Regions from separate parts of the Homo sapiens genome. Here region 1 is linked to region 2. The links come from fine-mapping of genetic effects on gene expression. A gene starts in region 2. The other region holds a variant in brackets. All regions are shown on one strand. Distances are between the middles of the regions. Region 1 has its middle 7.7 kb from the start of P2RX5-TAX1BP3. Region 2 holds the start of ITGAE (integrin subunit alpha E).

What was found.
Region 1: its variant is fine-mapped to the expression of ITGAE in platelets (CEDAR, PIP 0.95).

Annotation. Positions count from the first base shown.
Region 1 is chr17:3,702,665-3,705,566 of GRCh38, forward strand. It overlaps a transcript of P2RX5 not described here. Among named protein-coding and RNA genes, the nearest start is that of P2RX5-TAX1BP3, 7.7 kb to the left of the region's middle. The variant A/G (reference allele first, on the strand shown) is at 1,594.
Region 2 is chr17:3,799,599-3,802,500 of GRCh38, forward strand. ITGAE (integrin subunit alpha E) reads right to left here and starts at 1,590. Exons shown (of 31, transcript NM_002208.5): 1 at 1,513-1,590. The coding sequence starts at 1,546. It overlaps NCBP3 (nuclear cap binding subunit 3), which reads right to left. Exons shown (of 13, transcript NM_001114118.3): 13 at 2,560-2,902.

The DNA of each region.
Region 1 (2,902 bases), 97 kb before region 2:
TCAGAACATCAGAAGGAACAAACTCCAGACACACCATCTTTAAGAACTGTAACACTCACCACGAGGGTCCATGGCTTCATGCTTGAAGTCAGCGAGACCAAGAACCCACCGGAAGGAACCAGTTCCAGACACATTGGGACTATATGCGTGAGCCACTGTACCCAGCCTGCCATTTTCTTTTTACATCATCTCCCTTGCTCCTAAGACTTGCCAGCATTTTAAAGTCTATTATTGTGGTCTGGACCCACTCTGGGACATCCTGGTCTGCTCTGAGACCTGGGACAGTCTCTGATAAAATCCTGGTGGACTCCCAAATGTATCCAGTAAAAGCTACGAGGGAGCCTCAGACAGAGCCCTCCCCTCCTCCAAAGAAATGTGCTGGGGGCCTCACCTGGGGGAAACCAGACTCTCCTGCCTCTGATCCCAAGCTTTCCCCACACCAGTATCTGTTCCTTCTACACATTTTATAGATGAAAAGCGAGAATGTATGGTGCAATGGGCTGAGCCTTTAGAGACAGGGGAATTACTCCTCAAATAGAAAAACTCAACAACAAACGAGGCCAGGCCCAGTGGCTCACACCTACAATCCCAACACTTTGGGAGGCTGAGGTGAGAGGATCACTTGACCCCAGGAGTTAGAGACCAGCGTGGACAACGAAGTGAGACTCTTGTTTCTACCTAAAAAAACAAAACAAAACAAAAAACATTAAAAAATTAGCTGGGCATGGTGGCAAGTACCTGTGGTCCCAGCTCCTTGGGAGGCTGAGGTGGGAAGATTGCTTGAGCCCAGGAGATTGAGGCTGCAGTGAGCTGAGATCATGGCACTGCACTTCAGCCTGGGTGACACAGAGGGATACTTTAAAAAAAAAGAAAAAGAAAACTCCTCATTTCCCTATGGGATGAAGTGCTTCCAAGAGGAAAAATGTCAGCTGCAGGAGAGTTGCCAACAGCATCACTGTTCCCAGCAGCAGCTTGGAGGTGTCCCTTGGTCACCCCTGCAGCCTCTGAAGACACGTGGGTTCTCTCTTCCCCTCCAGCTCTGGTGAGGGTGAAATAACACCTCCCCCTTAGCCTGAGATTCCAACAAACCCAAAAAACATTCCCCACAAAATTAAAGGAAACAAAACAGAAAATAAACAACATTTAAAAACCCCAGCCGGGCATGGTGGCTCACGCCTGTAATCCCAGCACTTTGGGAGGCCGAGGTGGGTGGATCACCTGAGGTCAGGAGTTCGAGACCAGCCTGACCAACATGGAGAAACCCCATCTCTACTAAAAATACAAAAAAGTAGCCGGACGTGGTGGCACATGCCTGTAATCCCAGCTACTCGGGAGGCTGAGGCAGGAGAATTGCTTGAACCCAGGAGGCAGAGGTTGTGGTGAGCTGAGATGACGCCATTGCACTCCAGCCTCGGCAACAAGAGCAAAACTCTGCCTCAAAAAAACAAACAAACAAAACCCAAAAAACCACACAAAACCCAAATCCCATAAAATCATATGGTTCTTGGAGTAGAGGTTCAGATGTTACTTCCTTATGGTGAATTCTATTTCCCACCTCAAAGGAGCAGGAAGGCCTGGAAGGAGGAGATTTGA[A/G]TCTCTCCTGGGGCACAGAAGGTCATTCCGCGATAAGGGGGCCAGCTGCAGACCCAGCCTTCCTGCCGAGTCCTGAGGAGCTGGGTGGCCCAGAGAGACAAGAGTGGGCAGGGGTGGTACGGGAAGAGTTTCACCAAGAGCCTCCCAAGGCAACTCGCCCTTTTCCTTTTGCTGAGGTCCTTCCATGACGGACATATCCCATTAATAGACATTACTGATCCACTTAAATGGCAGATGCATTATTAACGCCATGTAAATGCAGTCAACAGAAGGCAGGACACTCCTCTCTGTGGGAGGCACTTCCGTGCCCATCAGCACCTTGTGTGACCCACCGTAATTGATGGGTTGGTACTCAGTACCCAGCGCCCAATATTTGAACTGAGGAAAATTCCACTGAGACAGTAAACACTTGAAAGAGTAAAGAGCCAAATGCTAGTCCACTGGGCACTAAAAAGGATAAAGATTCAGGCCGGGTGTGGTGGCTCACACCTGTAATCCCGGCACTTTGGAAGGCCGAGGTGGACGGATCACCTGAGGTCAGGAGTTCGAGACCAGCCTGACCATCATGGAGAAAACCTGTCTCTACTAAAAATACAAAATTAGCTGGGTGTGATGATGCGTGCCTGGAATCCCAGCTACTCGGGAGGCTGAGGCAGGAGAATCGCTTGAACCTGGGAGACAGAGGTTGCGGTGAGCGGAGATCATGCCATTGTACTACAGCCTGGACAACAAGAGCAAAACTCTCGTCTCAAAAAAAGAGAGGATAAAGAATCAAACTCGAGTCAACCAAATCCACAAAGCAGTGACAAGTCTACCACGGTACCTCTTAGAGCTACGCACATCTTGTTCTAACTCCAGTTCCCGGCGCTGGCTTCCCCCACAGCATGTGTGAACTTTCTCACACGCATCCGCTCCTCTCCACTCCCAAGTTCCAGGACTGTGGTGATGCAATGAGAATGAGTGTGAGAATGGTGGCAATGCAATGAGTGTGAAACCCACGTATCAAATACCACGAATGCCCGTGTCTTCCCATAGTTCCCTGTACACGATTCGGATCCAATGCACAGTCCTACCTGCCTTCCCAGCTACACAGTCCCCACTGCACACTCAGCCTCAGCCAGCTTGGCTCGTGGGCTTTACCATAGTTTTCAGTGTCCAGCTTCCCTACCTTTGCCCAGGTGGATCTCTCCTCTGTTCTTCATGGCTTCGAGGGTCAGCTTACAGGTGTCTCTCTCCTTCATGAAGGCCTCCTCAATTGCTGTCCTCCTCCAAATGTCCACACGATAGGATCTGTACCATTTAGAGAATT
Region 2 (2,902 bases):
TCTGTGCCCCAGTCACCTCCTCTGTACTGGGAGAGGGTAGACAAGAGTCTAGTCTAAGCATCTGCTCCAGATATTCTTGGTAATGGGAGATCAAAGCCACAAGCCATAAAAAGAGTGAGACTCTCTCCACACCCCACATGTAACTAAAAACAGAGAAGTCTAAATTGTAAAATAAAAGGAAGTTCAACAAACTGTTGACCTTTCCATGGTGACTATTCTGATGTTTTTGAAATATAAAATATTAGGCCGGGCAAGGTGGCTCATGCCTGTAGTCCCAACACTTTGGGAGGCCGAGGCAGGTCGATCACCTGAGGGCAGGAGACCAGCCTGACCAATATGGTGAGACCCTGTCTCTACTAAAAATACAAAAATTAGCCAGGCGTGGTGGCAGGCGCCTGTAATCCCAGCTACTCGGGAGGCTGAGGCAGGAGAACTGCTTGAACCTGGGAGGCAGAAGTTATGGTGAGCCAAGATCCAGCCTGGGCTCCAGCCTGGGCAGCAGAGCAAGACTCTGTCTCAAAAAATAAAATAAAATAAAATGAAATATAAAATATTAAAATCTGTCCAAAAACGTGTTCCTTGCTGGTACCCTACACATTGTGGCCTGCTTCCTGGGTGATCTGGCCCCAGGTGGGATGCTAATCCCAAGTCCCCTCCCAGCACAGCCTCAGCCCATCTTTCAGGGAGAACTCAGCTACCAGGAGCCTTTCATCCACATAAGCTTGATGCCCATCCAATTCTCCGGCCAACCTCCTGAGCAGGGGCAGGAGACCCATGGGAAGTCTGCTCAGATCACTAGGCAGGACCACCCTGGCCTCCGGCTTAATCTTAGCAGCCTCCAGGGGCTCACCTGACCGTGCTGTCTCATCACAGGGGGCCCCCGAAAGGACTCATGGCTTGGCTTGCCCAGAGGCTTCCATGGGACAGTTAAAGGCTAAAATGGGACCCCCCAGGCAGCAGAAGTGCCTCCCCCCACCCCACATTCCAGTTTTTACCCTGGGCCTGACAACACAGGAAGCAGGCTCCCTGCCAACACTCACACCCTCTACCATACAGACACTTGCCCCCAGTCTCTGGTCAACACTCTCTCACAGGGTCCTCACCCTCATCAGCCCAACCCCTGCTCTGTAACAGAAGGGAGCTCTGCCAGGCGGAGCCTCCACACTCAGAGAACAAACTACAGAGTCAAGGACCTGCCCCAAGTGGGTGCCATGGGGAGAGGGCCTCGGTGGCGGGGGGAGGCTGGCTGGAGGAGGAACAGAATGGCAGAGCCCTGGAGTCCAAAGGCCCTGGCTGACAGAACTGGCAACACGAAGCCTCAGCCGCCCTTCCCAACAAGCCTGGGGCCCTGACCCACCGAGCAAGACTCCTTTCCTGGAGGAGCTGCCACTCTCTAACCTCTGGCTCTAACTGAGCCCCATCAGAGACAGACAGTCAAGGCTGTAGTCTGCAGACACCTGGCTGGAGCTGAGGGCACAGCAGCCCCTCGAAGCAGCGGGTGAGAGGACTTACTGGCTATGCAGAGCAGAGTGTGGAAGAGCCACATCCTTGCTGGAGCAGAGGCGGCTGTGTGGGAGCCGAGGCGAGTGCGACACATGGGCCGTGGCCCACTCAGCTTCCCCTCAGCCAGGAGGCCAGGAGGCGGGGACAGAAGCACACACACCAGCAAGGACCCACAGACCGGCACTTTCAACCAAACAGAGACACTCCGGCTCGTACACAACCAGCCGTGTGGCTTCCTCAGTTGTGGGCTGGACCCTAGGAGCTTAGGGGCCACTGTCAGCCCCACTCTACCACCCACACTTTGACCCACACTTTCATGGAATAGGGAGCTGAGGTTTGGCCAGGGCCACAGTTCTAGGTGTCCTCAGCAGATGCTGGAGGTGCAGGAGCAACGTGAATCCAGCCTGCCGTTCGTATCATCCATTTGAGTCGGTCCCCTGTCCTGCCTCAGAACCTACCACCAGACATCTCAGCCCAGCTTCCAGCCCAGGGTCCTCGGTGGTGGTTGCCTCAGCACTGAGACAGGCGTCCCCCTCCCATAGGAAGTGCCTCCCCAGCCAAAAACTGGGCTCTTGTACCAGCCCATGCACTCAAGGCCCTGGGGTTCTGGAGGGCCAGGTGAGTGGAAAGACCCAACGCACTGAGTGAAATCACTGCCTCGATTCAACTTCGGCTGCGTTCATTCTCTTTAAAACCAGGACAGCAACCTGACGTGGAAACTGACTGAACAGGACTCTGAGTTACCAGAATAACAGAAGTAAAATTCTATACATCTTCCAGCATACCTGTGATGCATCCCAGCATTCCACAGAACACGCCGTTGACAGCTGGCAGTCGTGTTTAAGTGCTGATCTGAGATCTGTACTGTGTGACCAAGTCTGTGACACAGAAGGAACTCTCCTGCACCCCTGCTCCCCAGGCTGCTGGAAGTGCAGAGTGGCGCCGTCAAACAGAACTCTGCGCGGGGATGGAACTGCTCTAGGTCGACGCTGTCCAGGATGGTACTCATGAGCCACATATGGTACTAAACCCTTAAAATGCCACTAGAACAACTGATGAACTGAATTTTGTATATTTTATTTAATTTTAATTAAACGTAAAAAGGCAGGACATTCCAAGGCTCTCTAACACGAGTGTCTGCAGCCCCATTCGCTTTGAGATGTGAATGTGTTAACCCAGGGTGGACAATGGTGTTGACTTCATTACTAGATAAAAATCCATGTTATTTTGTTTCTCGCATTGAAAGGCTGCTTGGCTAAGGTTCTGTGAAGATCCGATGACATTTCCAACACTTTGCCTTGTCTGCTTTGCTCTGACAAAGTGCTTATGACTACTAGATCTTGCTCGGTTATGTGAGATTACAATTCACCGGTTTCCATCCTGTATGAAACAGAAGTTA